Homo sapiens: one gene and its partners. The protein of the gene in region 2 purifies or fractionates together with the protein of the main gene of each other region. This does not show direct contact. Each region holds a gene or a part of one and is shown on either strand. Other genes may lie near its edges.

What was found.
Region 1: the proteins of TM2D2 (region 2) and PCNX3 purify together in Homo sapiens (affinity purification with mass spectrometry; 2 studies listed by BioGRID and IntAct, with this or other methods). This does not show direct contact.
Region 3: the proteins of TM2D2 (region 2) and ERGIC2 purify together in Homo sapiens (affinity purification with mass spectrometry; 2 studies listed by BioGRID and IntAct, with this or other methods). This does not show direct contact.
Region 4: the proteins of TM2D2 (region 2) and PIGM purify together in Homo sapiens (affinity purification with mass spectrometry; 2 studies listed by BioGRID and IntAct, with this or other methods). This does not show direct contact.
Region 5: the proteins of TM2D2 (region 2) and UQCC1 purify together in Homo sapiens (affinity purification with mass spectrometry; 2 studies listed by BioGRID and IntAct, with this or other methods). This does not show direct contact.
Region 6: the proteins of TM2D2 (region 2) and SIDT2 purify together in Homo sapiens (affinity purification with mass spectrometry; 2 studies listed by BioGRID and IntAct, with this or other methods). This does not show direct contact.
Region 7: the proteins of TM2D2 (region 2) and SLC47A1 purify together in Homo sapiens (affinity purification with mass spectrometry; one large-scale study listed by BioGRID and IntAct). This does not show direct contact.

The regions. Positions count from the first base shown.
Region 1 is NC_000011.10:65,629,276-65,632,775, forward strand, and holds part of PCNX3 (pecanex-like protein 3), read left to right. Parts: intron 1-81; coding exon 82-140; intron 141-244; coding exon 245-460; intron 461-1,075; coding exon 1,076-1,329; intron 1,330-3,500.
Region 2 is NC_000008.11:38,988,308-38,990,908, forward strand, and holds the end of TM2D2 (TM2 domain-containing protein 2 isoform a precursor), read right to left. Parts: 3' UTR 501-2,601; downstream 1-500.
Region 3 is NC_000012.12:29,374,673-29,378,172, forward strand, and holds part of ERGIC2 (endoplasmic reticulum-Golgi intermediate compartment protein 2), read right to left. Parts: intron 1-3,500. UniProt on the Homo sapiens protein: Possible role in transport between endoplasmic reticulum and Golgi.
Region 4 is NC_000001.11:160,024,453-160,028,467, forward strand, and holds the end of PIGM (GPI alpha-1,4-mannosyltransferase I, catalytic subunit), read right to left. Parts: 3' UTR 501-4,015; downstream 1-500.
Region 5 is NC_000020.11:35,345,974-35,349,473, forward strand, and holds part of UQCC1 (ubiquinol-cytochrome c reductase complex assembly factor 1), read right to left. Parts: intron 1,300-3,500; coding exon 1,191-1,299; intron 1-1,190. UniProt on the Homo sapiens protein: Required for the assembly of the ubiquinol-cytochrome c reductase complex (mitochondrial respiratory chain complex III or cytochrome b-c1 complex). Involved in cytochrome b translation and/or stability.
Region 6 is NC_000011.10:117,192,243-117,195,742, reverse strand, and holds part of SIDT2 (SID1 transmembrane family member 2 precursor), read right to left. Parts: intron 3,490-3,500; coding exon 3,381-3,489; intron 3,170-3,380; coding exon 3,093-3,169; intron 2,924-3,092; coding exon 2,877-2,923; intron 2,591-2,876; coding exon 2,485-2,590; intron 1,891-2,484; coding exon 1,780-1,890; intron 131-1,779; exon of another isoform or gene 1-130.
Region 7 is NC_000017.11:19,540,354-19,543,853, forward strand, and holds part of SLC47A1 (multidrug and toxin extrusion protein 1), read left to right. Parts: intron 1-2,039; coding exon 2,040-2,141; intron 2,142-3,500.

The DNA of each region.
Region 1 (3,500 bases), on a different chromosome or scaffold from region 2:
GTGGCACAGGGAGAGCATGAGCAGGGTGCACCCTCTCTTCACCTTCTTGGCCAACCGCCTTGTTGCACTCTCTCTGAACAGCACTAAACGTGTGGATCATTCCAACACCCGCCTGGTCACACAGCTGGACAGGAACCCTGGTGTGTACCCAGCCATCCAAGGGGCTTTAGGGCAGGGCCTCCCTGGGGAGGGAGCCTCGCTAACTTGTCACTTTGTCCATTTGCCCGTCTGTTCTGGGTCTTAGGCGCTGATGACAACAACCTCAACTCCATCTTCTATGAGCACTTGACACGTTCGCTGCAGCACACACTGTGTGGGGACCTGGTGCTGGGCCGCTGGGGCAACTATGGCCCTGGTGACTGCTTCGTCCTGGCCTCTGACTACCTCAACGCCCTGGTGCACCTCATCGAGGTTGGCAATGGCCTCGTCACCTTCCAGCTGCGTGGCCTTGAGTTCCGGGGTGAGCCGCAGGACCAGGCTCGGGTGGGCAGGCACAGCTCGGGCCTGATGTGGGAGCTGTGTTCAATAGCACGTGCGAAGGAGGTCCAGTCCAGCTCTGTCCAGGCTGGCGGGTGGCCTTGGGCAAGGCACTCCTCCTCCCTGGGCCTGCGTTTCCCAGTCTGAGCAATGAGGTGGCAGGGTCTCTTGGCCAAGCCCTGTGCCTGCCCCAACTTTAGGTCCCAGTGACTCTACAGGTCACTGCAGTGAGGGCCTGGGCCTGGAGGTCTGAGTTCTCACACCCAGCCTGCTCTGTGGTCTCAGGCTTGGCCCATGGGTTGGGCGCCATGAGTGAGCCAGCTCCTTCCTCTCAGGAAGACGTGTGTGTTGGATGCCCGAGAGTGCAGAGGGGCCAGACCGTGTCCCTGCTCCCTCCCGCCCTGCCCTTGGATGCTGGGAGTTGGGAGGAGAAAGGCAGGCGCTCTTTCGTGAATCTTGGCATCCAATAAGGTTGACTCCCCTGGCGTCCAAGGGGGTGAATGGCAGCAGGCCTCTGATGCCATGTTGGTCACTCTCCCAGGACAGGGCAGGTAGGGATTGTTCTAGCAGCCCCTGACTGCACACCCCTCCTCCACAGGCACTTACTGCCAGCAGCGCGAGGTGGAGGCTATCACCGAGGGTGTGGAGGAGGACGAGGGCTGTTGCTGCTGTGAACCTGGCCACCTGCCACGGGTCCTGTCCTTCAATGCTGCCTTTGGGCAGCGCTGGCTGGCTTGGGAGGTAACAGCCAGCAAGTACGTGCTGGAGGGCTATAGCATTAGTGACAATAATGCTGCCTCCATGCTGCAGGTTTTCGACCTCCGCAAGATCCTCATCACCTACTATGTCAAGGTACGGTGGGCAGGTGTGGCCGGGCAGCAGGGCCCTTGCGGGTGAGCGCTCGCTGACCAGAGGCCCCAGTACCCCCTTTCTGGGTTGTTGGGAGCCTGTTTTGTCCAAGGGAAGCTGAGGCCTCAGAGAGTTTAAGTGTCCCCTGAGGTGCCACTGCCAGACCTCAGGTTGCAGGGGCCTCTGTGCCCATATGGCTCTGATAGGTGCCCAGGCAAGGAAGGCTTGCTTTGGGCAGTGAGTATGGGGCAGGTGGGCAGTTGCAGAGGCCAGCCTTTGAAACCACCAGCCCCTGCCCCCAGCTCACCCAGCACAGAGCAGTGGTAGAGCTAACAGTTGTCACGTTAACGATCATCATGGGAGCAGCTGCTTGAGCAGTAACATTTACCACGGGTGGGCGCTATGCTGGGCATCTCTCCTGAGCTGGGTGGAGTCCCCCACCCTTTGAGAGGGGCCCTGCTATCTCACAGATGTGGAAGTTGGCTTGCAGAGGTTCCAGAATCTGAAGAAAATGGCCAAGCCAGGCCTTGAACCCAGGCTGGCCCTGAGCCACAGAGCTTTCCTGCCTTAGCCTGGGGGCTCTGAGCCAGGCCTGAGGATCTTGAGACCTCTTGGGGGTGGGAGGGGGTTGGTGAGGCAATGTGGGGTACATAAGGAGCCCTGGAATGGGGGTTCTGATCAGCCTGGAATGTTTCTTCCCTGTGTCCCTCAGCTTACCCCTTGAGAAGTGGGGGTTATTGCAGTTCTCTGAGATGGCAGAAATGTTGAGGCTTGGCCAAGCGTGGTGGCTCATGCCTGTAATCCCAGCACTTTGGGAGGCCAAGGCAGGTGGATCACTTGAGGTCAAGAGTTTGAGACTAGCCTGGCCAATGTGGCGAAACCCCATCTCTACTAAAAATACAAAATAATTAGCCGGGTGTGATGGCGGGCACCTGTAGTCCCAGCTACTTGGGACGCTGAGACAGGAGAATCACTTGAACCTGGGAGGCAGAGGTTGCAGCCAGCCGAGATCGTGCTACTGCACTCCAGCCTGGGCAACAGAGCAAGACTGTCTCAAAAAAAAAAAAGGAATTTTGAGGCTTGTGGTGCTCAGAATAAGCGTACTGGGAGTGGGGTGGCCTGCTGATCACAGTGCAGGCTCCCACGTGCCTTCTTAGGATCTACCCTGGTGCTCCCTATGTTGGGCTCGGTGGGTGGCCTACTGGGGCCCAGGTGAGCCTGCCACCTAGGTTCTCTCTGGAGTAGTTTCACGAGGCCCTGGCTGTCCTTCTCCAAAGGAAATCCTGTCCACACCACATATCAGAGGAGCTGTCATTTGTCATTCCTTCTGCCCTCCCAGCCACTCCTAGGCAAGGATTTGTGAGACCACCCCCCTTTCATCAAGAAGGAGGCTGTGTCTAGAGAGGGACATTCCCAGTCCCAGGTCACCGAGAGGTCATGGCCTGGTCCACCTTCCGGTCCCATCTTGAGAGAGGTGCCCTTGCCCAGGTTGCCCTGCTGTGCCTGCTAGGCTAGGGCCAGCAGGTTGAGATGCACCTGGCCAGGTCTCTTGTCCCATGGGGAAGCTGACTGGCCACATCTAAGGCTGCCTCAAAGGCTGGGCAGAATTTGAGTCTGGAGGAAGTGCTTGGAGGACCTGGGGTGGCTCCGCTGAGGATGTGGACTGAGGGTGAAGCTTGGAAGGACAAGTCAGGGCTGCCAGGGGTGGGGCGGGGGGAGGCGGGTGTGCTGGGGAGCCTGGTGCATCTGGGGAAGTGTCCCAGCTGCAGGGATAGGTCCTTTCCAGCCTTCGAGGTTGGCCAGTCGAGGCGGAGCCCCTCCCGTTAGCTTTGCCCTTCCCGTGGGAGTTACTGGGCTCTCAGACCTGCTTCTGCAGCTGGGAAGGGCTACAAGAGCAGGAAAAGGCACCGTGGCTTGAGGCTGCACGGAGTCTGGGCAGTGCTTCCCGGGAAGTACCTTGGGCAGAGCCCAGCTCGCAGTGAGCGCTCACAGGCGGAGCGGCTGCTGGTATTGCCCCCCGTCTTCATTTTCTTCCTAAGATGACCGTGAGTGTTGTGTCAGAGAAAAGGATGGCACTGGTGAAGGTTAACCAAGCACCTGATATGTGCCAGGCCAGCTCCTCTCCCGGTCCCTGAAGCTTTTCTTTTTTTTATTTTTTTTTGAAACAAGGTCTC
Region 2 (2,601 bases):
AAAAGCAACAGTCCTCTGCAGGGACATGGATGGAGCTGGAAACCATTATCCTCAGCAAACTAACGCAGGAACAGAAAACCAAATACTGCATGTTCTCACTTATAAGTGGGAGCTGAACAATGAGAACACATGAACATAGGGAGGGGAACAACACACACTGGGGCCTGGCAGTGGGTAGGGTAGAGGGAGGGAGAGCATTAGCAAAAATAGCTAATGCATGCTGGGCTTAACACCCAGGTGATGGGTTGATTGATAGGTGCAGCAAACCATCATGGCACACATTTACCTATGAAACAAACCTGCACATCCTGCATATGTACCTCAGAACTTAAAAATAAAAATAAAAAGAAAAATGGTAATGTTGTGAGATTACAATTAAAAAATAAGAAAAATGGAGTTTGAAACACATATACACATTCAGGGATCATTAGGTTGGGGTACTATACTGTTGCTAAGATGCCTGACTATGTCAAGTGGAAGAAGAACACAGTGCCAGGAAATCTGGGGGAACTGATAACATTTTATTAAAGGCAAGAAACAACTAAAAGGCAGGCAGCTTCTAATTTAACCTTGAGGGAAGGACACTGTAGTATTTTAAACCTTCTCTATAGCCATAAACTAGATATAACACACACATATACAAATGGATCTGTCTACCAAAATTTAAGAAACAACCTGAATAAAGTGCAAAGGCAATCAATTGTTAAATAGTACTCCTTTAGTCCATCAGGTTTTCAGGTTGTATCACATTTGGCCAGGTTTGTGGGCAGATGGATGATGGGTGTCATTTACAAGTCAAATGAAAACCAGTAATTTTGGATTGTCACATAGGAATACTGATGATTCTCAAATTACCACTCTAGCAGCGAGAACAACTTCTTTTGTCTCCAGCAGCTTTACTGACAGTAAGAAGGGCATCTTCAGTAGTTTCTAGTCTTTTAGCCCTTCAACCAAGCTCTTACCCCTGGCAACATAAATGACTTCAAGCCTTGGAGCTGCAAAATTTCTTTTTTGGTCAGAGTCTCACTCTGTTGCCCAGGCTGAAGTGCAGTGGCAGGATCTCGGCTCACTGCAATCTCTGCCTCCTCAGTTCAAGTGATTCTCTTACCTCAGCCTCCCGAGTAGCTGGGATTACAGGTGCACGCCACCACGCCCGGCTAATTTTTGCATTTTTACTAGAGACTGGGCGGGGGTGGGGGAGTGTGTCTCACCATGTTGGCCAGGCTGGTCTCGAACTCCTGACCTTAAAGGATTCACCTGCCTCGGCCTCCCAAAGTGCAGGGATTACAGGCTTGCACCATTGCGCTGGCCCTAAAGTTTCTTATTTTTTAAAGAAAACAACTTTTGGTAGGGTTATGAATATACTTAGGAGGTTAAAGTGTGAAATGAGGCAGGACTTGGTTAGGTGAAAAGTAGCATCTTATTTTGGGTAATATTATAATTTATGTTTTTTAGACTTCCCTTAGAAATTTTTTTAAAATATACATATGGCATCCTTGAACTCCCTTAAACTCTTTTATTTGTATAAATTTATAGGGTACCAGTACAATTTTATTTCATGCATAAATTGTGTAGATGAACCCAAGTTCTATGTAAATTCTGTGTATGTAGATTTTTCTGGGGAGAGGGTCTAGTTTCTTCATGACCCATAAAAATTTAATAAATACTATCTTAGGGTATAAAGATTATGAATTAAAAGTTTACCAATTGTTATGTTATAAGCAAGGTTAAGGTCAGTGTGGTACAGAACTTTCAAGACAGAATAGGATCATCTGTTTTAAATTTTTTACAGAAAATTGCCACCTTTAATAATGTAAAAACAGTGATTAATCAGGAATGATAAAGCAAGAAATTCTTAGGAAAGCTACAAAATGATAGAATGTATCCAGGGAAGTTATTTCAACTGTGATATTTGGTCTTAAATTCAATTATTATTAGGTAAACTGAGTGAGTTCTACCTTGTTTCTAGAATTTGTAAGTTATTCTGAGTAAAGCCTCTTCCATTGACTTGGCCACATTGCCCACCTTTGATTTTATATTTAATAGTTCTTTCAACTTAGATTGCAAACGATGAGAACTGAGTTTTTAAAACCACTTACAATCTGGAACATTTCCTTTTATTCCTGGTGACCGGGGAATGCAGAGGTGTGGCTGTTATCTCTTTCTGACTGCTGCAGCCCACAGGGAGAGCTAATCATGAAGAATAGTTTTACAGAAACTTGTATGAAATCTTAATTTTATTAGCATGGGCTGGTAAACGCTGATTTTTAGATTGGACAATTCTGCCAGGAGGAATAGCTCAACTCACACATCTGATGCCGCTGGCTTTCAAAACATAAGTGGAATGAAAAAATTATTGCACTGCATATACTGCCTCTGGAACATAATGGAGACAAAAGAGGGCTTAATAGGATGGCTCATTTCAAATGACTAGGTTTCTGCAAAACAAATATAATTTTGAGTTTATTCCCCCTACTGAAAATACTCATACAGTACTCCAAGTTGGTAAAATTTATTCTACATTTAAATTCAGAAAGTCAGAATTTCAGTGTGTATTACAATCCACGGCCATTTCTATTTCTGCTGAAGATTTTCATTGTT
Region 3 (3,500 bases), on a different chromosome or scaffold from region 2:
GAAACATGGGTTATATCTTTAGACTTAAGCTATTTCTAAATTTCTCTTAAATCTGCCTGTCTTCTCTTCTTCAGGCCTACTGAGAAATTCCTTATGTCCAAGTATGTTCCTAGTCCCAACTGCCACAATCTATCACTACATTGCTTCAACAACCTCTAATCTTCAACCTTCCAATTCTCTCTCTATACTGTAATAATAAATTATCTTTTTAATACATAAATCTGATATTTCTCTTCAAATCTTTGTAAAACTTCCCTTCCCACTACACTTAAGAGCTTGGATTCTATCCTAACATGTTTTACAAAGCCCTTCAAAAACCAGGTCCTGCTAACCTCTCTTCAAACCCAATCACTCACAGTCTACGTTCCAACCATATTAAATCACTTTCAATTCCTTAAATATCCTATTCTCTTTGCCAGAAATATTTTTTCTTCCCCCTACCGCATCTCTACATTTGACTAACTCCTACTTACTCTTCAAGGTCCAGTCTACTCATCTCTACCTTGAGCAAGCAGGGGGAACAAAAAAACTTTCCATGGCCTTCAAAGTCTATCTGCTTCTAGAACGTTGTACCTTTATCACACTATTTCTAATTGCCTCTTTTTCTGTTTCCTCCACCGGATTGTTAGAGCAGGAACCATGTCTAACTTGATCTTTGTATCTCCAATGCCTAGCGAACAGGTATTCAATATTTATTGAGAAAAGGAAGGAAGGAAATTTTCCCAGAAACACCACAGTAGCACATCTTTCAAATCACAGCAGTATGTCATACTTAGGTAAGTAAATATATAAAAATAAGATCCACAAGAAGGATTTTCCTGTTGTCTACTGTCCCAGGACCTAGAACAGTGGCCATCACATAGTCAGTATAGCACTGTTAAACAAATGAATAAAACAGTGAATTACATTTCTAAAAGTTTATATAAATGTTATATTTGTATAATGAGCTTTCTAAATGCTCTTTTAATTTATATATAAGCATAAAGATACGGCAAGCAGTTAGTTTTACAAATCTCCTAATAATACATACAACCTATTCAACACTCCTCCCTTGAAAGTCTAGCTGGAATATATCATGTGGCTCCCTACCCATCTCTAGCTTCCTCCATCCCTGTTTTCCAGGGGATATCACTCTAGAATGGAGCACCTCGCCCCTCAGCTACTCCACCAGTCCCATTCCTGAAAGCTCAGCACTAACCTACCTCCAAGAAATTCATTCCATTTTGCATACTTGCCAACCTACTGTAAAAGTCACTGTCTGGCATAAACAAGGTATCCAATAACTTCTAGCTTTTCTAAAAGAAATTGCTGTCTGCTCTCTTTATAAAACCTGACTTTCTATTGGCAGCAGTTCCATTCCAATCCTTAGTCATTTCTGAGACTCACAGGTTACAGAAGTATCATGTTTTACCATATTTCTCAACCATCTCTCATGTTTTGTGCTATGTATTATTTGAAGCTCTTTAAACATTAATTCATTTAATCTTGTAAATGACTCTATGAAGCAGCAGGTACTATTTTTAATCCTACTTTTTGATGAGGAAATGAGGCACAGAACTGTCAAATAATTTTCCCAGGCTACATAGCAGGTGGTAGAACTTGAAACTATGCTCCAAACCACAGTACACACTGATTCTCACTTCCGTACTTGTTGCTATATTCCACTAACATCTGAATATATTCATAATTTGCTTAATGACTTCAGCACCCAGATCATTCAATATGCTTCTCCCCCACTCCATTATCATCCTTTGGAATTCATGCTCTGATGGCATTTATCCTATAGCATTCATTCACAATAAAACCTTTTTACCATGTAAGCTTAACAGCGCTTCTCCTCCTGTGACCTCCATCTTAATTCTATGGAAAGCCACCCATGAGCAAGGTCAACCCTTAAAACTGTTCCACCTCTAAAATCCAAAACACATTTACCTCCCCAAGTAGGAACTACCCTTCAAGCTCTTTCCTAAGATAAATCTGCTCTTCATTTTCACTGGTGTTCTCAAATCCTTTAAATCCTACCAGATACCCAATTTCATTGCTCCATTCCCACTCTATTTGCCTCTCTACTCAGTGTGGTAAGCCATTTTCAAAAATGTGTTTGGAAATACCTCAGATCATCAATGCTTGCCAGAAGTCATTGCTATTCTGTGACAAAATTTTCTAGTCATGGACAACGTAGAAAAGAACTTTTAAAGCTAAATTTATTCCATTTTAAAATGTGTCCTTTATTCTGAGATTATTTTATTCCATTTTGTCAAAACAGCCTTTCCTTTATGAAATGATAAAAACAGATATAACAGAGGTTGTTTTGTTTTTGGATGTCTTTATTCAGCAAAATTAAAAAATGTAATTCTAGGTCAGTTTTTATACCCAGCCCTTTTCCCTGTCCACACGGCCCGCCCCTCTCAAATAGATATACATTTTCTTGTATTGGTCCACAAAATCTAGTTAGAAGCCGTTACACAAGATTCCTTTGCCCACTGGTTGGTGCTGCTATTCATACCTTGACAATCTCCAGTACTATGTCTGTTTTCTTTGATGTCTCTCCTTAAACTGTCTTGAATATTAAAAAACAAAACAAACATAAATAAACTCCAGAAAGTCACTGATAACAGCTGGAGCTAAGACAAGACAGTTGTCCCTCAGTATCCATGGGGTATTGGTTCCAGGACCTCCCTTGGATATCAAAATTCTCAGATGCTCAAGTCACTGACATAAAATGGTGTAGTTTTTGCATATAACCTATGCACATCCTCTTGTATACTTTAAATGATCTTTAGACTACTTATAAAACCTAATATAATGTAAATGCTATGTAAATAGTTGTACTGTTTAGGAAATAATGAAAAGAAAGAAGTCTGTAAGTATTCAGTACAGACACAATACTTGTTCAGTAGGCATGCAATTTTTCCTTCTTGAATATTTTCAATCTGCAACTGGTTGAGTCCACAGATGCAGAATCCACAGATATGGAGGGGTGACTGTATTTTGAAAAACTTCCTAAGACATAAGAGACTCCCTTTCAGGTTGGAACACAGACATTATCAACACTCACTGTAAGTAAAGTCACACAGCCTATATTTCATCATTGTATCCATCTGAATATAATGAGACTATTAAATGCTTTACCAAAATTAAAATACAGAATTCATGAACTTTTTATAGTCTGCTCAGTTAAGTTTAATTCTCCAAAGAAAAATGAAGACAAAAGTTATTTCCTGCTACCCAAGTTTTGAGTTAACTTCTATTTTTAATACATATTTGGCAATATGAGAAAAATTTAATTGGTTAATACATATGGCCAAGTTGCAGTCTGAACTGTGTCAACTCACAATTTGATACGTTGAACAAGATATGTTGAAGTCTCAACCTCTGGTATCTATGAATGGGCCTTATTTGGAAATATTTGAGTCTTTCAGATATAACTAATTAAGATGAGATCATACTGGATCAGGGTGCTCCAAAATCTGAGACTGGTGTCCTTTTAAGAAGGCCAT
Region 4 (4,015 bases), on a different chromosome or scaffold from region 2:
ACACAGGGCCTGGATCTATAAATAACTGCCAAAAAAAATGAAGAGCAAAGGTTATACATTTCCTTTGTAAAAAGAACTGAGCTTCAAATATTCATGCTCCAAATTATTTTTAAATAGTCACTGTAAGTGTCATTTCACTTTGTCTAGCAGACATAGCAATTAGCAGAGTGCCTGAGCAGCTATAAATGTTCTCATTTAGTCTGGTTTTTGTTCAGGATAATGAATATAAATGCTTGTTTTGACTAAATGAATGGTTCTCCTAGGCCAGTGCTGAATAAATGCTTGTGCTATTGTGACGCTTCTGACCCAGGCAGGAGACATGTGCTTCCATCTCCAGAACAGCAACCCCTGAATGACCCCTCGATACAATGGAGAAAAGAAGTGCTGTGTAATTTAGGGGCATAAACCAAACCTCCACTGCTTAGAGTCAGCTTAATGTCTGACAGAAATATACAAAACTGTAAAGCCTCAACCAGACATCTGAATAATCTGTCCATACATTTTTCACATATCAGTATTTATTATCTTTTCAAAGGAACAGGTCAAGATGAGAATAAAGTTTATGATCAAAGGTAGTCAAACATTTATTTTATATAAATATAATTTCCTTGCCTATATCCATTAGATTTGGGGAAAAAAGGTTCAAGTTTACAGTGCCAGAACAGCTCCTTCTTTAAAGGCTTGTAAACAGTGACTTGTTCTATGCCAGCATGCACACTTTGAGCATATCAACTCACTTAATCCTTACCAACAATTCTATGAAGATTGTGCTATCATTCCCATTTCACAGATAAAAACTAATGTATCTAGATATGATAATCTTGCTCAGGATCATGCACTGGGATTTGAACCTAAGTGATCTATTCTCTGATGCCGTACTATCAATGCAGTACAATTTTTAACTGCATGAATGCACACTGCAGAGCAACAGCAATTGAACAATGATCATTTGCCTTTTGGAAATTATGGCCACATACTTTGTGTAGCTTGATTTACAAATAGCTTGGCTAAAAAGCAGTTCAGCAAATCAACTTCTTAAAATAGGCTATGAAGGAAAAGTGCATGATGAAGCCAGCAGTAAACAAAGAAATTACACAATTTGGTGAGAGAGGGTTTGGAGGTGGAGGGGAGTTGTTAAAGGCCTGGAATCATTGAAAAGTTTGGGGATGACAGTGACTTGGTACAACTGAGAGAACTGCCCCTCAAAAGATTAGAAGGACAATTGATTGGCAAGAGACACTTGACAGAGCCAGTATTGAGTTCCATTTATTTTGGAGCAGTATGCATCTGCTGGGTTTGGGTACTCTGGAAAAATCCAAAACATAATATAATGGAAAAAGCATGGGTAAAAATCACTTATTAGCAAGTTGTTTAATCTTTGAGCCTCTTCGTTCATCTATAAATTTAGAATATGAATATCAACTTTGAAGTGTTGCTGTGAAAATTAAATAAAACCATATATGGCGGAATAGGTGCCCAAAATTGGTTAATCATGAAAAATTTACCATCATCAAGATGTAAAATAATTAGCTGTTGTTGTTGGGGCAGGGCTTGGAGTTGGGGGTTGGATATTAAGATTCCAAACCTGTATAATCTTTTATCTGGAAAACCTACCAGATAAAACAAAGAGATTACCACCCCCATGTTTTTAGGGAGAGAGACAGAAAGTATGACACACAAAAGAATTAATTTGTTCAACTTTGATGGAAGGTAAACCCCTTTAGTTCTCACTTTGTTTTTAAGACTAGGAAAAGATTCAAACTTCTTAATTATGGATTATCCACCATGTTCTTTCCTTCCTCGGAATCTTTGAGATCCAAGAACGTCTGTTCTTTAAGATGTAACAAAAAACACCTGAAGAAATTTGAAAATGACAGAATGTTAAATCATAATAGATAGCAGAATTATGGTTTTGTAAGAAAATACCTGATTTTTAGGAGATGCATGCTGATATATTTAGTGGTGAAGTTCAATGATGTTTGCAACTTCACATGGTTCAAAAAATTTTATAAATATATAATTATACATATACATAAAGCAAATATGGCAAATTGTTGTTGAATTTAGATGATGGCAATATGAGTAGTGTTTAAAATAGTTAGGTCAGGCGGGGTGCAGTGGCTCACGCCTGGAATCCCAACACTTTGGGAAGCCAATGAGGGAAGATCACTTAAGTGATCTCCCTCTTGCAACATAGCAAGACCTCGTCTCTACAAAAAATAAAGATTAGCCAGGCATGGTGGCAAATACCTGTGGTCCCAGCTACTTGGGAGGCTGAGGAGGAAGGATCACTTGAGCCTGGGAGTTCGGCTGCAGTGAGCCATGTTTATACTACTGCACTCCAGCCTGGGTGACAAAGCAACATCTTGTCTCAGAAAAATAAAAAAATAAAATAGTTGGAGCTGTTTGTTTTAGAGGCAAGGTGTTGCTCTGTCACCCAGGCTGGAGTGCAGTGGCACAATCATAGTTCACTATAACCTCCTCGAATTCCTGGGCTCAAGTGGTCCTCCCACTTCAGCTTCCCAAGTAGCACTTTTTTTTTTGTACAGATGGGGGTCTCACTATGTTGTCCAGGCTGGTCTCAAACTCCTGTCCTCAAGTGATCCTCCTGCCTCAGCTTCCCAAAGCATTGGGATTATAGGCATGAACCACCATGCCCAGCTCTTAAAATCGTTTATAATAAAACATGAGGGGTGGGGGGAACCAAGAGGTTGCATTTAGGGACAATCCTAGGTATAATTTTTCCATCTTTTTCCTTTTCCATTCATAGTACAGATGGTTAGGGGAGAGGGTGGTAATGCAGAAAACAACTGATATTAGAGAAGTAACAGTAAATTCAGCCACAAGTCAACTGAAAGACAAGTTCTACACAACTTCTGAAACATCTTGTAAGAGTCCAGATGGTGAGAAGTCAGTAACTAAAATCAGTGGTTTTAGGAATTCTTTTGCCAGGAAGGAACAAAGCACTGGGTGGGAGTATTAGCCTTTCCAATGGGCCTATCAAGAGAATTTATCCAGGAATATTTAGGAACCACATTCTAAAGACGTTACAAAGGCAATTACAGAAGAAAATGTCATGTAGTTCCCTCTGTTCAGAACACACACAATCTTGAGAATCATCCCTCTTTATCTAATAATTAATGCTTACCTGCAAATGAACATATCAATCTTAAGAGGTGGTATAAGAAAAAAAGAATTATATAGGAAATAAGCCAAAGTCTTATAAAATTTGAAGGTGTTATTAAAGGATTAAAAAGGAAACAAAAGGATTGTGATAAGAAGCAAAAAAAAAACATTTTTTTTACATAACCAGAAAACAAATTAAAAAATTAAAATCCCCCAAGAAACCAAATTAACTCATTTTTTTAGTTAACTTACTAAATGTTTTGGAACATACAAAGTGCAAAATATCTTTTGCATCCCTTTAAGAAACACCTGCCTTTCTTTGGTAAAGAATTTCTTGCAGGAAAGATTCCAAAGTTTGAAGTTCCCTCCAACGATCCCAGCAGAAATGTTTCTAACTTCTAAGAATGTCCTAAGAGAATGAGCTAAAACACAGAAAATGTTGAAAGTCTTATTTAGAATATTAAAAACTGGAAGCAATCTAAAGGTCTAACAGTGGAAGAATGATGTATTTATAATGTGAATATACATGTGATGTCCAACAATTTCAATTCTAAGTATGAAGAGTAAGCCACAATAAAGAATGTTAAAAAACAATAATTAGTAAGTAAATATAATTATAAAACCAAGTCAGAAATACAAAAAAAGGGACAACTATACTGGAATGATGAAATTCGATTTCTGTTTCCTGCCTCCTCCCTTGCTGGCTCTATAATTTTTTTTTTTAATTCTTAGAATAGGAAAAAAAGGTAAGAATGCTATGGCTGGAAGGCCACTAGTAAACAAGCACATATAAAGGGTCCTCAAGACAAGACCTAATATGGGTATGAAACTAAATGTTATAAGGAAGGTCATTGTCCTCAGCAACTGACTCTGCTATTTTTACCCCAAA
Region 5 (3,500 bases), on a different chromosome or scaffold from region 2:
AAAAGAAGATACTAGTGGGAGGTGAAGCCAGCTGGGCTTCTGGGTCGGGTGGATACTTGCACCAATCAGTGCTCTGTGTCTAGCTAGAGGATTGTAAATGCACCAATCAGCATTCTGTAAAAACGCACCAATCAGCGCTCTGTGTCTAGCTACAGGATTGTAAATGCACCAATCAGCACTCTGTAAAAACGCACCAATCAGCACTCTGTAAAATGGACCAATCAGCAGACATGGGCAGGGACAAATAAGGGAATAAAAGCTGGCCACCCTAGCCAGCAGTGGCAACCCGCTCAGGTCCCCCTTCCACACTGTGGAAGCTTTGTTCTTTCGGTCTTCACCATAAATCTTGCTGCTGCTCACTCTTTGGGTCCGCACCACCTTTAAGAGCTGGTAACACTTGCTGTGAAGGTCTGCGGCTTCATTCTTGAAGTCAGCGAGACCACGAACCCACTGGAAGGAAGAAACTCCGGACACACCATCTTTAAGAGCTGTAACACTCACAGCGAAGGTCTGCGGCTTCATTCTTGAAGTCGCGAGACCAAGAACCCACCACAAGGAACCAACTCCGGACACACTATGATCTGTATAACCAGCTATATTCTAGTGTTTTGGTTTCATTTTTCTATTGTCATTACATCCCATGTGACATATATATATATATAATATATTCCCCTTTCTCAGGTTAATTATTAAATGTACTAATGTACATTTTCAGGAGGTATCTTACCAGACTCTTCTAGGTTGCCAGTGATCAAGGAGCTTGAGTTTCAGTTCCTGAAGACAGTGCAGGCCCCATACCAGGGCCTCCCATCAGAACTAATTTATAGAAGGACTGGTTCAAATATTGAACTGGTGTCAAAGGTATAGTATCCTTAACTGGATTATCATTTGATTCCCTCCATTCACCAAATCCATCCCTCCTATCACCACGATTTGGGCTTTACAATCCCATCTCCATACAGGATGACTTCACACTGACAAATCACTATAATGTGTACAAACACATAAAGTATCTGTGGAGTATTAGTTTCCACAGAGGCAGAAAAAGTGACTTTAGCGGAACTGCCACTTGATATTAGGCAGCATTTCACAGAAATCTAAAAGCAGGGCCATTTTACAACAGATAAAACTCCAAACTCAAACCCTTCTCTGGAATTGTCCAGGACAAGCATCTGACAGCACTCACTTACCCCCATGACTCTGCCGCGCTGCTGAACATCCTCCCACATAAAATGAACTATGATACGACACATGTACTTCCCACTCCGGCCTTCCTGCTTCATTCGGACTAGACACATCCTGGGTGGGAAGAAGACAAAAAAAGTCTTGGCTGTTTGCATTTTTCACATCACACATTTCCACTGAAGGTCTCCTCATCTAAGAGTGAGTTTAGCAAAGGGCACCAAATCAAACTGGAAGTGAACTTTTTTTTTTTAAACTTTTACTGAGATATAACAAAGATACTATTAAGTGTATAAATCTTAAGTGTACTGCCTGATAAATTTTTATGTATTATACATACACCCACACAAGCACCACCCAGATCGAGATACAGATTATTTAGGGCACCTCTGAAGGCTCCCTCATACCTGGAGGGAACCACATTTTTTTGTTAGAAGACAAACAAGTCTGAATCCTTCATTTTACTGATGAAAGCAGGAGTCCTAAAGACGGAAAGTAATTTGCCCAACACCAGTTTTATATCCGTAAAACTGGGTATAGAACTGTGCTGTCCAATACAGTGGCTCCCCTGTGGCTATTGAGCATTTTAAATACAGCTAGTCAAAGCTGAGATGTGGCACAAGTTTAAGATTTCAAAGATTTAGTTGAAGAAAAAGAATATAAAATATCTCAATTTTTAATACTGCTTTCATGTTGAAATAATATTTCAGATATACTGGGTTACATACAATCTATTAAAATTTGTTTCTTTTTACTTTTTCAAATGTAGATACTAGAAAATTTTAAATTACATACATGGCTTGCGTTATATTTCTGTTGGACAACACCTGTCCAGAACACAGATCACAGAAAGTATTATGATTACATTTGTGTAATTATCCAATTGTTTCCCCCACTAGAAGGTAAGCTCTACTGAAGATAAAGATCAAATCTGGTTTTTGTCAACATTTTATTTCCAGGGCTTAAGTACAGTAGGCACTCAATATACACTTGCTGAATAAATAAATGAACAAACACCTATGGTTAGGGCCAAGTTTAGGACCTTTTCCCCTATACCACATTTGCCTCTAGTCAGTCCAGAGGGCTTTCTGAATAATCAAGACCTCACATAATCTAAACATACAAGAATTATATTTTATTATATATAGGAATATAAGCAGGGTCCCCAACTTTTCAAACTAGTTCCTCATTTCATGCATGACCATAGTTCATTCTTTTTTGTTTTGTTTTGTTTTGTTTTGTTTTGTTTTTTGAGACGGAGTCTCGCTCTGTCACCCAGGCTGGAGTGCAGTGGCGCCATCTCGGCTCACTACAAGCTCTGCCTCCCGGGTTCTTGCCATTCTCCTGCTTCAGCCTCCCAAGCAGCTGGGACTACAGGCGCCTGCCACCACACCCAGCTAATGTTTTTGTATTTTTAATAGATATGGGGTTTCACTGTGTTAGCCAGGATGGTCTCAATCTCCTGACCTGTGATCCACCCGCCTCAGCCTCCCAAAGTGCTTGTTTTCTCCTTTTTGAGACAGGGTCTCATTCTGTCACCCAGGCCGGAATGCAGTGGCACAAACACAGCTCACTGTAGCCTCAACCTCCCGGGCTTAAGGGAGCCTCCTGCCTCAGCCTCCTGTGTAGCTGAGATTACAGGTGTGCACCACCACGCCCAGCTAATTTTTTATTTTTTTGTAGAGACGGGGGTCTCAATTTGCTGTGCAAGCAGATCTCAAACTCCTGGGCTCAAGACTTCCTCCCACTTTAGCCTCCCGAAGTGTGGGGATTACAGGTGTGAGGCACCATGCCTGGCAGACTATAATTTTTATTGTTTCTCATTAAATAGCTTATTAAGCAGCTACAATAGGATTACTCACCTAAAAGACAATTCCTGTTATAATTATGGAATAGTTAATCCAACCTGACAATTCTATATCCATACACAATTGATCTTGCCAATTAAAATCTACCAGCAATAGTAATGGTACAATGAAATGATTACAGCTTGGCCTGTCTCAACATCTTTGTTAATAACTAAGATGGAGAAAAGAAAACATATTTACCAAATTTGCAGGTGACAAGAAGCTGGGCAGGAGAACAAATGTGCCAGATGATCCAACCATGAACCAAAAATACTTCAACAGGTTGAATCTAACAAGATCAACCTAATGGGGATAAATTCAGGATCCTGCATTTGAGTCTAAAAGAACAACTGTAAAAGTACAGCACAGATAAGTCATGCCTACCTATGTGTGAAAAGACTTATAGGCTTAAGTTGATATTATGTGCTCAGTAGGAATCAAGAGGATAACAATGCTGCCCTCCAAATTAAT
Region 6 (3,500 bases), on a different chromosome or scaffold from region 2:
CCCATCTGCCATCTTGCTCCTGGGCACCCCTCTCTCCAGCCCCAGGCAGGACAGCAGCAATTCTGACCTGTCCCTTGTCCTTGTCCCTACCCCTTCCCGATCTAACAAATGGCCTTTGGTTACAAACTTCTCCCTGAGTTCACTGGCTTCTCTTCCCTTTTCTTTCACTCTTACCCTCCTCCTTCCTTCTGATTCTCTTCCCTTGACCTAAGAGCACAGGGTTGCAACAACCTTGAAGGCCTTCAGCTCAGAGATGGCAGAAGGCCTTCTCACCCACTTCCCGGCCTTGGACTCCGCCCTTGCTCTAATCTTTCTGCAGGCTCATTGTTTTTTCCAAAGCACTACTGTCAGGTTACACACCTGCTCCGGGACAGTAGCCATAACCTGTGGCACTCAAGGTCCTCCCTGCTCTACTCATAAGCTCTATCCCATAAGCTCATCCAGGCTGTGTCTGTCTGTGCTACATGCTGAGGCCACAGACATAACCAAGACCTGCCCCACCCTCAGGGAGCTCACAGTCTGCCTGGCTCCCAAATGAGTGCATTCACTGACCTCCAAATCTGCCCCTGTATCATTACTAAGGTCACAGTAGGTCTGGGCCATGGGGCTCTTCTCCATTACCCAAGACTTTTTTTTTTTTTTTTTTTTTTTTTTTTTGAGACAGAGTCTTGCTCTGTTGACAGGCTGGAGTGCAGTGGAGAGATCTCAGCTCACTGCAACCTCCACCTCCCGGGTCCAAGCCGTTCTCCTGCCTCTGCCTCCCGAGTAGCTGGGACTACAGGCGCCCACCATCACGCCCAGCTAACTTTTGTATTTTTACTAGAGATGGGGTTTCACCATGTTGGCCAGGATGGTCTCAATCTCTTGACCTCGTGATCCACCCGCTTCGGCCTCCCAAAGTGCTGGGATTACAGGCGTGAGCCACCGTGCCCAGCCCTCCTCACCCAAGACTTTTATAGCCCAGAACAAGGCGCACTTTTTCCAGGAAGCTTTCCTGGACTCCTAACTCGGAGAGACCCGTTAGTCCTCTGTCCTCCTGCCCCGTCTTGCCTGTGCCCTTCATTTCATGTATCACATCGTAAACAGCACTAACAGTCATGCACCAACAGTCCTTCTAGCCCTCTTCGGCTAGTTTATGAGTCCCTCAGAGACCATGTCAGACTTAGTTCTATTCCCAGAATTAAAGCCTGACATGTGGTAGGTGTCCTGCAAGGCAGAGAAGAGAGCCAAGCCTTGCTGGCTTCAAATGCCAGCTGTGCCACTCACTGGCTATGTGCCCTGGGGAAGTCACTTGGCCTCTCTGAGCCTCATCTGTCTCGTAAGTAAACTGGAGCTATCTCCAGGCTGGAATGCTAGGAGGATTAACTGGGGAAGCCGCTATGAAAGTGCTGGCCTATGGTAGGTGTTCCCAAATGATGTTTAAAATTTTTTTTTTAGAGACATGGCCTATCGTCCAGGCTAGAGTGCAATGGTGCAATCTTGGCTCACTGCAGCCTGGAACTCCTGCACAGGCTATCTTCTTGCCTCCGCTTCCGAGGTAGCTAGGACTACTGGTGAATACCACCACGCCAGGCTAATTTTTTTATTTTTATTTTTTTATTTTTTGTAGAGACGGGTTCTTACTATATTGCCCAGGCTGGTCTTGAACGCCTCAAGTGATCCTCCTGCCTCAGCTTCCCAAAGTGCTGGGATTACAGGTAATCCCAGGCTCAGCCCCAATGTTTAAAAAGAGGACTGGCCACTTGTTGGCTCACAAGGAGCCTGAGGGTGAGTGCTCACCTGCCAGGTGCTGAGTCCCTGGAAGAAGAAGAAGAGCGCGAAGCCCCAGACCACGGAGGTGCAAACGATGCAGAGCAGGGGGATGAGCTTGATCCTCTCCCCACTCCGGAGCTGGGAGGGGCCAGGCAGGGACAGCAGTCTGAGGGCTTACCCCTGTCCCACCCCGCTGTCCCACCCAGCCTTTCCCAGATTCCCTTTCCTCATGGCCTCCCAGGCCTTCAGGACTGCTCCTTGGATTCATACCATTCCGCACAACCACAGAGCTCAACCTGCCCCCACCCCGATGTCCACCCCACCCAGCCTCCATGTATCCAGAACCCTGTGTCGGGACAGTGCACTGGCCTCAAGGCGCTCCCTATGCAGGGGGCTCCAATCAGAGTGGAAGGCAGGATGGTTTCTGGGGAAGCACCTGATCCTGAGAGGCCCACACCCTACCTCCCCTCAGCCCCTTCTGCATGGAAAGGGGCACTTACAACTGCAGCCTAAAATGCCACCTGTTTCAAGGGCCCTTGGAAGGGGCTCAGTAAATGGTCTTTGGGCTGCAGTTGGCTCCCAGGGGCCCATGCAAGAGGCTTTAGCCTCTCCCCTCCGCAACCAGCAAAGATGGGACAGAAAACTTCTCACTGCCCCTCAATGCTGCCGGGCCCATCTCTCTCCCCAGATAGCAGAGCAGCTGACAGAGGGGGCTTGGCCAGCCCCACTCACCTTCATGATGATGTAGAAGGCGAAGTAAAGGAGCAGGTTGCAGATGCCAATGGCCAACAAGTAGGAAGCGAAATCATTGGGGCGCATGATAAGCCCATAGGCAGCCCTGGCAAGAGGGATGAAGGGTGGTGAAGCAGGAAGCCCAAGGGCAAGGAAGTGCTCTTCCTGCCCTGCCTAGGCATGTTTTATTATGATGTTGGGCTGTGTTCAGAAGCCCACAGAAGATTCTAGAAGCCCAGATGCCAAGAGAGAGAAGAGAGGCCAAGATCTCTCTTAGCCCCCATGTCTTATGCCCAACATTTGGAAGTTGTCCTTAGCCCCCAAGGCAGCCAGTGGCTGACCGAGTCCCCAGCTGTCCACCCAACCAGGCCACTACTGCTGACCATACTCACAGCGACCAGTTGATGACGTTGCCCATGACCAGCAGCACCATGCGGTCCTGGAGGGAAGCAGGGACACAGGGACTGAGGGCAGGGGCAGGGAGGGTGGTGGAAGAAGGCCCAGCCAGCTGGTCCCCACTCTCCCCTGGGTCCTCAGCCCAGCCCCACTCCCCCATCAGAGGGAAGAAAGGAGATGTGGAGAATGGAGCAGGGGAACCAGGCAGGTACCACGTAGAGCGGCCCGCTGCACTGCCGGATGCAGTCTGTGTAGAGCACGTGGAGGATGCGGCGGAAGATCCCCGAGTCTGCGAAGAGAAGGGAGTGGTGCTGACAGGCACGGGGCACCCTCCTTTGCTGGACCCCTGGGATGTGCCAGCTGAGGAGCCCAGGCCTGATCTAATTCCTCACCCAGTGACTCCAGGGCCCCCAAGACAGAACCTGAGCGTCTCCCGTGCGTCCGGGTTCCCAAGGCCCCCCAGACCCCTCCCCCAGGCCCTGCCCCGGGCGTGCCCTTACCCAGTTTCCACCGGCCCATGTAATAGAGCTGCGTGCTGAGGAGCAGGGTGGCGATGATGTGAATGATGGAGAAGACGATCCAGAACGCCGTGTTCCCTTTGCCAAAGACCTGTCGGGAGG
Region 7 (3,500 bases), on a different chromosome or scaffold from region 2:
CAGATTCTGTGAACACAACCATTTGTTACAGATGATGTGCAAAAGCTTAAAGCACAGTGAACTGAACAGATTTGGAAGTGATGCCGAGTTTACAAATAAAAGGGACCCTGTGGCCTTTAAAGATACATGAATTCACAATTTAAAGAGACACCAAGCTCCACCCAGTGAAACCACAGGGGACATCTGTAAGGGTGGTGACAACGCCCAAATCGTGTGGCACCATTACAGGCCTACTGGGCATCCATTGGCTCTAGGTTTAGATTCTCCAGCATCTGGTTCTTCATGTCAGCCTTTTTTATTGACACCTCCACCCCACCCCCTTTTTATTCCCATCTTCTGTCTTATTTTGGCTTACGCAAAACATTGCAAAAGCGCTCCTCACGTTCAGTAGCAGGGGGACTGTGGCGATTAAATTCACATTAGGCTTCTGTGGTAGTGAGAGAAGTGCCTGGATCATGTAGGAGTTCATACAAGAAAGATACTTCTCCTACAACAGACACACACACACACACACACACACACACCCCTAGGGTTAGGAACAGGCTGTGCTTGCTCTGAAGGTCTGGGCCCATCACAGGAGTTGAAAACAGTCTCTCCCGGGATGTGGATTCTAGGGAAGAAAAGAGGGAGATCATCGGAACCATTATGGCTCGGGGGCCTGATGAGGTCCTGACGTAGCAGTTTTGGGGTGGCTGCAGAGCTGGCAGATGGGCTGTGTGTGAGCCTGGTGGAGGTCAGCTCTAGAACCTAAGTCATTGGAGCCCTAAAAGAGGGACCTTTCTGTGGGCTCAGCACAGAGGACTCTGTTCTCCCTGAGGGCGGTGAGAGGCGGCCTTGTGGCTAGACCAGCAGCAGCATCACCAACTCTGGGGTATCAGCTTCAGTGAGGGCCCCATGGGGCAGATGCAGGCAGCGGCGGCAGCAGCAAATCCTTACACACCCATTCTCTCCTAGGGAGCAGGGGTCAGGTGAACTCCCCATTTTGGGCCGTGTAGCCTGCCAGGGGAGAGGGGCTTCCCCAAGAGAGATACTGGACCGCCTGGGTCTAGTGGGTGGGGGGCAGGAGGTGATTTTAAGTTAACCTCCAGAAATAAGCTCATTATCCAATCATGCAGTGAAAGCACTGTGGAGCAATTCATAGAATTGCCCACTGGAATTTCGAGGAAGAATGGTTCAATATTCCAGAATTTGCCCTCACATCTGAGGCTTCCTAGAATGCAAGGCGTTCAGCAGGCCTGTAATGTTTCACCCTGAGAGTCCGGATCCCGCTGGGACTCCAAGTGGACGATCTCATCGCTACCTCCAGCTCCTCCTGTCTACAGACTTCCTTGCTGGAATGTGTTCTTGTTGTTGAAGGCTGTATTCTCTCCAGTCCTCACTAGGAATCTTGGATAACAAGGGGGTTATCCCAGAAGGCAGCCTCTGCACATTGCAGAGGAAATTTAATGTGATCTATGGCTTGAGAAACTGAACTGAAAAACAGGAAAGGCAGGCTGGGCGCAGTGGCTCACGCCTGTAATCCCAGCACTTTGGGAGGCCGAGGCAGGCAGATCACGAGGTCAGGAGTTTGAGACCAGCCTGACCAACATGGTGAAACTCTGTCCCTACTAAAAATACAAAAATTAGGTGGGTGTGGTGGCGCCTGCCTGTAATCTCAGCTACTCAGGAGGCTGAGGCAGGAGAATTGCTTGAACCTGGGAGGCGGAGGTTGCAGTGAGCCAAGATCGCGCCACTGCACTCCAGCCCAGGTGACAGTGTGAGACTCTGTCTCAAAAAAAAAGAAAAGCTGAAAAGGCTGGGAAGTTCTCAAAAAAGTGATTCTGACCCAGTGGTTGCAAATAAATGTTTTAATATTTCAAGAAGCCTCCCATCCCCAGCCCCAGAAATTGTACATTTGCCTGTGAAAGGTGGCAGAGGCTCACTGAAGTTGTATTTCTTTACTTCTGACTGGACTTGTTGGGTCGGGGTCACACTTGGGGCCCCAGGCTTCCCTGCAATGGTGGTCACTCACGTCCCTTCCCGTTCCCCTCTCTTCCCAGTTCTTGGTTCAGCTGATGGTGTTCCTGATCAGCTTCATAAGCTCCGTGTTCTGTGGCCACCTGGGCAAGCTGGAGCTGGATGCAGTCACGCTGGCAATCGCGGTACGTGTGGGCTTTCTGGCAGGTTTACCAACACTGTCTGTGTTTGCCTTCTGCTGCTACTATAACAAATCATCAAAATGTAGTGGCTGAAACCTACACAGACTTATTCTCTTACAGTGCTGGAGTGCAGAAGTCTGAAGTGGGTTTCATGGCCTAAAATCAAGGTGCTGCAACTTTAATTCCCCTTTGCTGTGTAACCTTGCAGATTCCTAGGTTCTGGGGATTGGGCTGGGGACATCTGGGGGGGCATTATCCTGTCTATCACATCTTCTCATTTATTTTATTTTATTTTATTTTGTTGTTTTTTTTTTTTTTGAGATGAAGTCTCGCGCTGTTACCCAGGCTGGAGTGCAATGGTGCGATCTCGGCTCACTGCAACCTCTGCCTCCCAGGTTCAAGCGATTCTCCTGCCTCAGACTCCTGAGTAGCTGGGGTTACAGGCGTGCGCCACCACACTTGGTTAATATTTGTATTTTTAGTAGAGATGGGGTTTCACCATGTTGCCCAGGCTGGTCTCAAAGTCCTGAGTTCAAGCAATCCACCTGCCTTGGCCTCCGAAAGTGCTGGGATTACAGGTATGAGCCACCGTGCCCAGCCTCACATCATCTTATTTCTTTTCTTTTTTTTTTTTTTCAGACGGAGTCTTGCTCCGTCACCCAGGCTGGAGTGCAGTGGTGTAATCTCGGCTCACTGCAACCTCCGATTCCTGGGTTCAAGCAATTCTCCTGTCTCAGCCTCCTGAGTAGCTGGTACTACAGGTGCCTGCCACCATGTCTGGCTAATTTTTGTATTTTTAGTAGAGACGGGGTTTCACCATGTTGGTCAGGCTGGTCTTGAACTCTTGACCTCAGGTGATCCACCCGCCTCGGCCTCCCAAAGTGCTGGGATTACAGGTGTGAGCCACTGCGCCCGGCCTACATCATCTTATTTCTAATCCATGGAACTCGTTCCCACTCTTGGTCCCACAGTTGGGGGAGGGGAACAGTAAAAGGGGAGTTCAGTCTGACTTCCTCAGAGGAACTGACTCCCCCCCATGCCCACTCCTCAGTTGTCTGTCTTACTGAGAGTCCTAATCTAGAAATGGGTCTGGAAGGTAAAAATCTAGATCTTTGTGTCCAAACTTAAAATTGGGAGGAACTGCAAATCCTCTCTGTATAATAGATGCAAACCCCCAAAACCAGAGACATGTCATCAATCTCAGCCAGGAATTGTCAGCTGGCCATGTAAGAACAAAGGGTTTGGTTTGTCTAGTTAGGTTGTTTCTAGAAAAGTGGATTCAGTGGCTCTCGGGCAGGTGTATGTTCCCCTTTCCTCCTGCCCTGACGGAGACACAATTTCACTTGATCTGCCTGGTCTCGC